3 linked regions of the Homo sapiens genome follow. The protein of the gene in region 2 purifies or fractionates together with the protein of the main gene of each other region. This does not show direct contact. Each region holds a gene or a part of one and is shown on either strand. Other genes may lie near its edges.

What was found.
Region 1: the proteins of GPR156 (region 2) and PLD2 purify together in Homo sapiens (co-immunoprecipitation; 3 studies listed by BioGRID and IntAct, with this or other methods). This does not show direct contact.
Region 3: the proteins of GPR156 (region 2) and ZBTB1 purify together in Homo sapiens (co-immunoprecipitation; 3 studies listed by BioGRID and IntAct, with this or other methods). This does not show direct contact.

What each region holds. Positions count from the first base shown.
Region 1 is NC_000017.11:4,805,174-4,808,921, reverse strand, and holds the start of PLD2 (phospholipase D2), read right to left. Parts: upstream 1,771-3,748; 5' UTR 1,697-1,770; intron 1,151-1,696; 5' UTR 1,150-1,150; coding exon 1,041-1,149; intron 939-1,040; coding exon 808-938; intron 649-807; coding exon 506-648; intron 1-505.
Region 2 is NC_000003.12:120,194,615-120,198,362, reverse strand, and holds part of GPR156 (probable G-protein coupled receptor 156), read left to right. Parts: intron 1-3,748. UniProt on the Homo sapiens protein: Orphan G-protein coupled receptor involved in the regulation of hair cell orientation in mechanosensory organs of the inner ear.
Region 3 is NC_000014.9:64,502,384-64,506,131, reverse strand, and holds the start of ZBTB1 (zinc finger and BTB domain-containing protein 1), read right to left. Parts: upstream 1,363-3,748; 5' UTR 1,186-1,362; exon of another isoform or gene 272-1,185; intron 1-271. Other genes in the region: ZBTB25 (zinc finger and BTB domain-containing protein 25), read left to right, coding at 3,122-3,231.

The sequences.
Region 1 (3,748 bases), on a different chromosome or scaffold from region 2:
AGGAATTTAAGACCAGCCTGGGCAACACAGCAGCACCCCATCTCTACAAAATATACAAAAATTAGTTGGGTGTGGTGGCTGTGGTCCTAGCTACTCTGGAGGCTGAGACGGGAGGACTGCTTGAGCCCAGGAGGTTGCCATGAGCCAAGATCATACCACTGCACTCTAGCCTGGGTGACAGAGGGAGACCTTGTACAAAACAAAAACAAAAAACAAACAAAAGGCCTAGAGGCTGGCAAAACGGAGGCCCCCTACCCTGGGAATGGAGACTAGAAAAGGGTGAGGCTGCCAAGAGCATTTTGGGCATCCCGCCCAGCTGAGATGCTGGCACAGAACCATGGACAGGGAAAGCTGAGCAGGGAAAGTTTCCTGGTAACTGGGGTCAGGGGAGGCAGCACAGTGGCCAGAGTTGCAGGGAGGAAAGGTTGTGGCCCCGGGGTGAGACAGACAGAAAGGAGGGTGGGGAGCACCTGCCCTCTACAGGAAGCAGTCCGGTCGCCCTCACCGAGCCAGAGGGAGCAGACTCATCAAGACTTTGTGTCTCAGGAGGTCCCGATGCAGCTCCTGAAAATGACGGTATTTCTTCTTGGTTGTCCAGGAAAAGTCGCCGTGAGTCAAGCGGACAGAATACAGAGTGCAGGTTCCCACCTAGGGGTATGAGGAACTGAATGGATGTCCCCTGCGTGGGTCCCCGCCTCCCCACTCTGGCCAGCCCTCCTTTTGCCCCTTCCCTGGGGCCAGCCCAGCCACCTTGGATCCATTCCGGGCCGCCCTCCCTTTCCCCCTCCCTGGGGCCAGTCTGGCCACCTTGGATCCGCTGGTATATCTTTCGGTGCCCACCACCTGGGCTGTGACAGGGACCCCAGGTGCGAACACCAAGGGGTGCACTTTCAGAGACTGAAGCTCATAGATGGCCAGAAACGGGTGCATCCGGTCGGCTGGGAGGAAAGAAAGTCGAGGAGTGTAGACCACAACAGGCCCCAGCCCCCTGGCTCCCGAACGCCTCTCCTCCCTGAGGGCCATCCATCTTCCCTGTGTACCTGGGTCCTCTCCCTCCTTCAGGGTGTCCACCTCATCGGACTCCATCTGGAGCTGGCTGGAGTCCAGTTCGTCCCCAGTGGGGAAGAGGCTCTCAGGGGTCGCCGTCATCCTAGGAACATTGGGAAGCCTCAGGGAGGCGAGCTGTCCTGCAGAACCCGCCCCCCATCCTAACTCCCGCAGGTCCTCCATCTCTTCCAGATCCTCCTCTTCCCCCACGGCCTCCTGACCGCCCGCGGATGACGCCTGACCAGTTTGCAACGCCCCACCGACCCCTTCGAGCCCCCATCCCCTACCTTAGTCCTTCATCCACAATCCCAGTCCCGCCCCCCGCCCCCCGCCCCGTCCCGTAACCAGAGCCCCGGGGAACACCCAGCCAGGCCCGGAAGGCTCCGACCTGGGGCGGCGCAGCAGCTGCGCGGGGAAGCGGCCCTGGGTGGTCCGGAGAGCGCGCGGCTACGGGGCTCACGCCAGGCCAGGCGGGCCGGGGGCAGGGGTCCAGGCGGGAATGAGGAAGTTACGCGATCCCAGCCGGGGGTAGAAATCCCGAAATCTGAGCGTGCGACTGAGTCTGGAGGCCCCGCAGCCCGAGCCCGTTCCGTCCCCGCCCGATTTCCGAGACCCGGGACCCCCGCGCGCCCCTTCCCGGCCCCCTCACCCTGGCAGACGGAGCCAGCGCCCGCGGGGGTTCCGGAGCCAAGAGAGCAGACCGGAGCTGCAGCCGGAGCCCACGCCCCGGCCGAGGCGGGGCCGGCCGAGGCGGGGCCGGGGCTCAGGGCCTGCCCTCGGGGGCGGGGCGGCCCCCGGCCTCACCTCCGCGGGATTCTCGTCTGTCCTGTCCCGCCCCCGCTGCCCTCGGCCCGCCCCGCCGCCCAGTGCGCCACCGAGAGCCCCGGGCAGGGGGCCGCCCTGTGCCCTGCAGGGCCGCGGGGCCGCGTAGCTCTCTCGGTGCGGCGGGTAAGTGCTGCCCGGCGTCGGGGCGTCCCGCGCCGTCGGTCCCAGCGTGCCCGGCCGCTGCCTCCCGGGGCACCCCGCGCTGCGCGCATCCCTCGGGCTCGGCGCCCGCCCCGGGCCCCTCCAGCCGCGGGCGCTGCCTCGGCGCCCGGGGGACGCGCCTCCGCTGCGGGAGCTGCCGGTAGGTGCCCCGCTCCCGGACCCGCTGCGAGCCACATTTGGCCTAGCCCAGATAGCGTTTGTACCTGGAAGGAATGAGGGCGTAAAAGGCCTGAGGGGTGGTGGCTACAAACCCATTAGTGTATGAAAGCGGGCATTCTTTCATTCATTCACCAAACATTTATTGCGCGCTTACTCCGTGCCAGAAATTGAGAGTATGGTAGTAAATAAGATGGTTAGAGAGCCTGCTCAGCTGGAATTGGCAGTCTAGGGGGAAATAAAATTTTTTCGGGTATTAAAATACAAGATATTTCAATCTTTTTTAAAAAGCAGATTTATTTTTCTCTTTTGATATACATGTGGGTTTCTAGTTTTGCCCATTGTTTTAGCTCCTGTAAACATTCCTGTAAGTTTGCGTGGATAGTTTTCCTTTATCTTGGGTAACTAGGGAGTGGAGTTGTTCGATCATATCAGTGTGTGTTTAACTTATAAGAAACTGCCAAACGATTTTTTTCTAAATGGTTTTTCCATTCTAGATTTCCAAAATCAGTGTATGGTGGTTCCAGTTATTCCATGGCATGGCCAACGTTGGATATTGTCAGTCTTTAGCGTTGGCCATTTAATGGGTGTTGTGGGCACATCATTGCAATTTGATTTGCATTTGTCTGGAGATCAATGATATTGACCATGTTTCATGTGCTGATTGGCCATTTGTATGTCTTCTTTTATAAAGTGCCTATTCAGTCTTTTGCTATTTTTTATTTATTTTTATTTTTATTTTTATGAGACGGAGTCTCGCTCTTTTTTTTTCTTTTTTTGAGATGGAGTCTTGCTGTGTTGCCCAGGCTGGAGTGCAGTGGCGCGATCTCGGCTCACTGCAAGCTCCGCCTCCCAGGTTCACGCCATTCTCCTGCCTCAGCCTCCTGAGTAGCTGGGACTACAGGCGTCCGCCACCACGCCCAGCTAATTTTTTTTGTATTTTTAGTAGAAACGGGGTCTCACCGTGTTATCCAGGATGGTCTCGATCTCTTGACCTTGTGATCCGCCCTCCTCGGCCTTCCAAAGTACTGGGATTACAGGCGTGAGCCACCGCGCCCGGCCAGAGTCTCGCTCTTGTTGCCCATGCTGGACTGCAGTGGCGTGATCTCGGCTCACTGCAACCTCCCCCTTCCAGGTTCAAGGGATTTCCGGCTAATTTTTGTATTTTTAGTAGAGACGGGGTTTCACCATGTTGGCCGGGCTGGTCTCAAACTCCAGACCTCAAGTGATCCGCCCTCCTCAGCCTCCCAAAGTGCTGGGATTACAGGCGTGAGCCACCGTTCCCGGCCTTTTGCTAATTTTTTTTTTTGAGACAGAGTTTCGCTGTTATTGCCCAGGCTGGAGTGCAATGGCGCGATCTCGGCTCACTGCAACCTCCGCCTCCCGGGTTCTCTCCTGCCTCAGCCTCCTGAGTAGCTGGGATTACAGGCACCTGCCACCACGCCTAGCTAATTTTTTGTATTTTTAGTAGAGACGGGGTTCCTCCATGTTGGTCAGGCTGGCGTCGAACTCCTGACCTCAAATGATCCGCCCTCCTTGGCCTAAAGTGCTGGGATTA
Region 2 (3,748 bases):
GAAATGGGGAAGAAGGTGAGCAATTGAGAGGGAGACTTGGAGTTAAATTTTGAACAGATTGTAGTCAAATTGGTGTTGGGATATTGGTGTTTACAATTCCTGAAGGGGAACCATTCTGAGTGACCCTAAGACCCAGAGTGTAACCTGGGGATGGGTGTCTGAAGAGGAATAAAGTGAAATCATTATGATTGAATAATTTAGAACTCTGGAGGCTGAAAAGCTAATGAAATCTCCTAGGATGTTCTACGAGGATGGTGGCCCAGGCACGAGAGTAGGGAACGGGGTCAGGCCTTATGATGGATACTTTAAATACAAATAGTTAGAGGTCACACTAATATTAGCTTGAGGTGTGCAGAATTTTAATTGGGTGCAGATTAGTGTATACATTAGAAATAAGCAAGATATTAAAAGATCAAATTTGCTGAAACACATCAGATAACATTATGATAAAGGTATTTGGAGTTTTATTTGAGTTAGATTTACAATCCCATTGTAGCATGGATCAAAAACAGTAAGTTGATAAAGAAATCAGATAAATTTTCACAATTTAAATTTTAATTGTTTTATTAAAAAGCATTTTGGAAAGACATTCATATTTGGTTTTGGATAGGTTAAAGCTCAGTGATACCATTTACATCAATTTTTATAGCATTTTAGAGAGCATGGTCTTGTGACATCTTAGGATAAGTTTTCTGTTAGTCACAGCATGCCAACAAGTACCTTGTGCTCCATTCTCTGGCCATGTTTTCAGACTCAGTAACTTCAAATAAAATAAACTGCCAAGTTGAGAAATTAACATTTGATAAAGTTTTTGCAACATCATACCATTGAGCTGGTGGATGTGGCTTAAGCATCTGAATTCATTAGAGACTATTGAAATGATAATGCAGAATTATACAGGTTTTGCAGATGTAGTTCAATATTTATCTATATGTATTGAAACCTCACTTGAGGATAGAAAAATCAAGCAAGTTCTTGTCTTACATTTCCACTCAATAAATGAAGAGGAAGAGATAATGAGAAAGCTATATAATCCTTTAAAAAAAAAATTCACCTTGTTTCTGACTGACAGTAACCCAATTCAGGCTTTTTACTCTTCATAAATGGAAGACAAGTAACCTAGATAGTACTGGCTATCTATAATTAAATATACAATATTGAAATCTATTTGCTTTGTGGAAATTATGTGTTTGTGGCTGATTAAAATATTCAGCTATGTAGGCTTCATCTTTTAGCTCAATAGAAAAATATAAATGACATTGGTGACTGAATTCCTACCAACGTGGCAAAGACATTCCCCAGACATACATAATTCACCTGCTGAATTGGAGATGATTCACCTTTCAGTGACTTCACAGGTGTTAACTTGGCCAAACAAAAAAGGGAAATCATCTTGTATTCATCTTTTGTTCCCTGAGGCAAGTTTTCAGTAAGATTGCTCGGGAAAAATATCACAATATACATATATAAGTCCATAGTATGTCTATTTGAATAATGAATTAGCACCACTGTCTGAGAGGTGAAAACTATTCAATGTATATTTTCTGGAAAATAACTAAATTGAGTTCCTCTTAACTAAATCAGAAAGAGAAGGAATCCTCAATCAGGATTTCATGTAGTACTGTATCACTCAAAGGAAAACTGATTGTATAGTGGTACTCAAATAAAGTGGGTCCAAAGAAAAATTATGAGAGAAACGTACCGATCAGTGATCTGGACCAAACAGACATGTGGCTGTGAAATCCAGGCAGTTGCTTGGTGACGAGGTCACCATCAGATAGTCATGGCTTATGTGCAGGAATGTGAGAATGGCCATGGGGAGGAATGGCCTGGGTTATGGGTCTTGCAGGAGTCCCACTGCTTGTGCCATTGCTCAAACTTCTGACTGCCCTGTGCAGCCGGTGCCAGGTCAGCAGTACTCTCTGCTCTGAATCAGTGTCAGCACTGGTCTCTCTAATGTAGTACCTTTCTTCAAAAAATGCTTTGTGAAGCTGCTGGTTAGCACTGTTCTTACTTCTGTAGTTAATATTCACCACATATTCCCCTTCTTTTGTGGAGAGATAAAGAAATTAAGGAAAATCACTCTCCATAAGTCCACAATCTGAAGACATGGAGGCTGAGGAGGCAGACCTGAATGAATAAGTGGATCATATGATAGGGCTAGATCTTAAATTTGGATACAGGAGACTTAAGGTAAACCACAGAAGCTTGTTGTTTATACATGTAGCTCTTTTGCTAAATATAAATGTGGCATGTGAAGATTAATAAATCTGAATGTAATGTACAGAATGTACTAGAACAGGAAAAAATTGGTGTTTACTGAGAGCTGAAGGTTACATCAAAAATCTAAAAAGTAATATTTTTGCATCATCTTAAAGTTTGCAAACAGTTTTGGCACATACATCATCTCATCTTTGCAATAACCTGTGGGGTAGATACAAAAGATGATGTTATTTTCATTTTCCAGATGAGGAAATAGGAGCCTGTTTCCTGGTCAGACAGGCTTAGTCAGCTGTGAGTGGCAGAGCTGGTGTTCCCACCTGTTACCCTCAACCCCAGTTCCATTGCTCCTAACATGATTGTATCCTGGATAAACATGGTATCAAGAATGGAGAGGCCAAGCGCGGTGGCTCACACCGGTTATCCCAACACTGTGGGAGGCCGAGGTGGGCGGATCACCTGAGGTCAGGAGTTCGAGACCAGCCTGGCCAACATGGTGAAACCCCATCTCTACTAAAAATGCAAAAATTAGATGGGTGTGGTGGTGCGTGCCTGTAAACCCAGCTACTGGGGAGACTGAGGCATGAGAATCACTTGAACCTAGGAGGTGGAGGTTGCAGTGAGCCGAGATTGCCCCACTGCACTCCATCCTGCACAATAGAACAAGACACTGTCTCAAAAAAAAAAAAAAAATGGAGAGTGAAATTTGGGAGGCTGAGGCAGGCAGATCACTTGAGGTCAGGAGTTTGAGACCAGCCTGGCCATCATGGCAAAAGCCTCTCTCTACTAAAAATACAAAAATCAGCCTGGCGTGGTGGTGGGCACCTGTAATCCCAGCTGCTCGGGGCTGAAGCAGAAGAATTGCTTGAACCTAGGAGGCAGAGGTTGCAGTGAGCCAAGATCATACCACTACACTCCAACCTGAGCAACAGAGAGAGACTCTGTCTCAAAAAAAAAAAAGGATGGAGAGTGAGAGAAAACTCAGAGACTTTGAAATAAGAAGTGAAAGAGGCCGGGCACAGTGGCTCACACCTGTAATCCCAGCACCTTGGGAGACCGAGGCAGGCAGATCATTTGAGGTCAGGAGTGCGAGACCAGCCTGGCCAACATGGTGAAACCTGTCTCTACTAAAAACACAAAAATTAGCTGGGCATGGTGGCGGGCACCTGTAATCCCAGCTACTCGGGAGGCTGAGGCAGGAGAATCACTTGAACCAGGGAGGCAGAGGTTGTGGTGAGCCAAGATCATGCCATTGCACTTCAGCCTGGGTGACAGAGCAAGACTCTGTCTCAAAAAAATTAAAAAAAGAAGAAGAAATGAAAGAAACTTGGCAATTGATTGGGTGTTTCTGATAAAGAAACAGAAGAAGGAAAAGGTGATTCCTAGGTTTCTAAAACCTGGAAGAGGTGGACAGTGAGATTATAATATAAGCAGCTGATGTTGGCAACATGCCTACTATGTGCCAGGCCATGTGCCAAGCATTTTGCCATATTGCCTTATTAAATCCTTACAACTCTTTGAAGGTAGA
Region 3 (3,748 bases), on a different chromosome or scaffold from region 2:
AGCAAATGTTGGCCAGCCATCATTCAAGCCTCATCTTTTTGTACTCAATTTTCCCCGTTTCTCCACATCATATCTATCTGCACTGACAAAATTTCATAGAATCTAATTTCTCCGTTTCAAAGAAGGCTGTGATTGCTCTGTAAATTATGAGACCTGCATCCTTCACCAAATCTGCTTCAGAGACATTGATCCTACGTTGCCTCAAAAAGCCTCGGACCACTCCTTGGGTTCGAGTGTCAAAGGGAACACTATTTCTTGTACTGATACATACCGTATGGAAATACACTAACACCAATGAAGAATCTGCGTGCACTGCCACACTGAAATTCGACTTAAGAACGTTATCACACACAAATGTCCTATCCCCAGAAAACGTCAAGGATTTTCATCAACCTCTTCCTGATTCGCCCAATTTAGAAAATGTCATGTCAACCCTTCAGATCATGTACACGCGTTGCTTAGGTAGAAAGGGAGACTGGGTGGGGTGGCTGAGCTCAGACCCTGCCTACATACTTTAGTAGTAACGACTCCCGATCTGCATCCAACACATTTACCGAACTTCTAGTAAGCGCCCACCGCTGCAAGCGAAAGCACTCCCTTCCCAAGAAACAGATCTTTTCCACTTAAAATTCCCAAACTCAGACCTTCCACTTTTTACTGAACAAAAAGCGTGTGTGCCGGCGAGAGGGGGTGGGAAACAGCGTAACAAGAATTTGCACGGATCTTACGCCTCCTCCCTCGGAGCGCGCCCAAGTCTGCAGCCTCGGGCTCCGGGACACTTCCCCTCCCACCCGCCGCCGAGCCGCAGCTGTAAGTTGAGAGAAGCGGGCTCTAGGCACGTCAATCAACCGGGTTCTCCCGCCTCCCGTCTACACCTCCCCTCCCCCCTCGAAAAAAATAAAGGCAGAGAAAGAAAGAAAAGAAGGTAACTAATTTGGGAACTAGTCTCCGTAGGGGCTTCGCCTCCGACTCAGGGAGGCCGCACGCCCGGGACCTGACGCGCCGGCAACAAGCAGGCGGCCTGGCAGCCGCCCGTCACCGGGTCCTCGCAGCGCGTCCGCCGCGCTCCGGCTCCCCGCACGGATCGGCGCCCCTCCGGCCCCGCACTCCGCCAGGCCCGCGGCCCGTCGCCCTCCGGCCTGGGCCAAAGTTGCGCAAATAGCCCCACAACTGGCAAATACTTACCGGCCGCAACAGGAACCAGAGCTGCGGAGATTTTAGGGAGTTTAAGGCAAATCAGCCGCGGGAAAGGCGGGCGAAGGCGAAGGGGCCGCGAGCTGCAGTGGCGGCGGCGCGCGGCGCTCGGCGCTCGGGCTGGGCTGCGCGGAGAGGCTCTGGCTCTGCCAGGGACTGTGCTGCAACAAAGGACTTCCGCTGCCGCACAGCCGCGCCTGCCGCACCGCACTGAGCCGGCCCCGCTTACGCGGCGACTCCGGGTCTGCCCACCAGTTCGCTGCGGCGTCCGCCAGCCTTCCCCTCCCTCTCGCCCGCCCACCCACTCTGCCGCTGGCTGCTAGGGGCACCCGCGGTCGCCTGTTTGTTGCAACAAGTTTCTGCGTCGAGCTCCGAGGAGGCTGGCGCAACCCGCACCGCGGGGGCCGTCGCGGCGGCGGCGGCTTGACCACCCCTCTTGCCCCTCTCAAGGGTAGGCTTGGGACCTCCTCCTCCTCCTGTTTGCACAGCTGGATGGAACTGGGCTCCTCCCGACTCCCCAGGGCAGGATGCGAGGCTGCTTTCCCACTCCGTCCAGATGTCAGACCCCTGCCCGTTGGGCCCAGCAGCTGGGCCGTCACTCGCGGTCCGCCTCGAGTGCTCCGGCAACCTCGCCCTGCCCCGTCGGTTCAGGGTCGCCCAGTCCCCGCGCCCCCCCGACCCCACCTTCCGTGGGCCTGCTGCCTCTGGCCCTGAGTCACTTCCCCCGCCATGCCCCACCTCGCCCAGTCCGCCTCTCCACCCAGGCTCCCGCGGCTCGGCCTCCCTGGCCCCGCGCCCTCATCCCTTCCCCAGCGAACACGCGGGCGCATCCTTCCCCACCCCCACCTTCACCCCAGAACTGAGGGGGTGCCTGTGCTTTTGCACACCCTGGGGAAAGTCCCCGGGTCACGCGGTTGTTTGTGGGGAGCCTGTGACGCTCAGGCTTGTCCCTATGCTTCCGCCTACAGAGTCACAACTGCGAACTGTGGCGGCGGCACTCAGAGCGCGGGCCGACCCCCGCCCGGCCACTGAGGCGGGCGGGCGGGAGGGCGCGCACGTACGCACGCACGCACGCACGCACACCCCGGCCCTGGCGCCCCTCTTTCCCCTGCTACCAGACACGCGGTCACGTGGGGCCATCGCGGGCTGCCGGCGCGGGAAGCCGCGCGAGAGGCGGCCGAGGGGTGCGTGAGCCGGCGCCACTGCTTGCAGTGCGCGGCTTGGGAGCCCGCCCCTCCTGCACGGAGGAGTCGGCCTGCCGCCGCGGCGGCATCTGGGTAAGCGACGCGGTCCTGCCCCTGTGGGCTGCCCCGGGCTCAGTCCCTCCTGCCGCGAGCCACCCAGGGCGGCGGCCTGCAGCTGCACCAGTCGCGGGACAGATGCAAGTAGCTGGGGAGAGGGGTGTTTTTGGTCCGATTGAGATGTCAGGCAGGGCACAGGAGGAAAATACATCCGCGAGTGAGCGCTGGGCCGACAATACCCAGAACCACCCTTTGCTGCTCGTAGGAGCGGCTGCCGGGGCCTGATTCAGGGTGGCACACGGGGTGCCGCGAAGGTGCAGAGCCGTCCCGGCCGCGGGTCCGGGTGCGACCCCCAGCAGGAAACCCCAGTAGGCCTGCGGCCTCCCTCGGGTAGCGCCGACCCCTCTTACGAGCGGGCGACTTTCCAGATGCTGGGAGGACGCTGCGGCTACTGTTTCCACTCCCAGCTTGTGATTACCTCGTTTCTAGGGCAAGAAGACATCCCCCCCTTTTCTATCTTCAAATTATGTTTATCTTGTTCTAAGCATATCCGGTTTTTCTTTTTGAAGCTTGACCCATCTTATCACCGTCTTCTCTGGCACTCAGTATTTGGAGTAATCAGTTGTTACCAGTTGCGGAGGCAGCGCATAGCACAACGTAGTACCTGGAACCTGACGGCACCTAGCATGTTTCAACAGTTAGCGCCCGCATCACCCCAAGGGATTAAATTTGGCATTCTTTCTCTTGAGACTCAAGTCCTGGCAGAGCTGTTGATCCTCTCACAAGATTCTGTCATGTATGTAAAGTACACTTTGGAATCTTAAATTTTAGAGCCGAGAGGTGCCTTATAGAAAATCTGTTTCATCCCTCTCGTTTTACAGAGAAGACACCAGGCCTGAAGAGCGTGATGTAGCTGGAGCTAGCTACACCTCTTGATAGCTAAGACTCCAAGGCTCCAGACACCTTGGTGATTGCACTCTCCACCATGCCAGGACCGCAGTGCCAGTTTACCCCACTCACCTGTAGAGAATGTATCCGGCGGAGGTCATTATATATACTTGGCTTGATTCAGGTTATGGAGAAGTCAGGCATGGCCACTGTGTGGGTTTGATGGTATTTCTAGGTGAGGTAGGCCGCCTATGGTGTATTTTTGGAACTAAAAGCCTACACCCCCCAGCCACCCCTGAAAGTTTCATTGCTGTTCTCTATTATTTGCAGCATTGGTTGCTTCCTTATGTTAAGGCATCAAAGTCTTCTTTAACAATCTGGATATATTTTAGTTAAGGGTAAATCGTGAATCCGTTATCGGACAT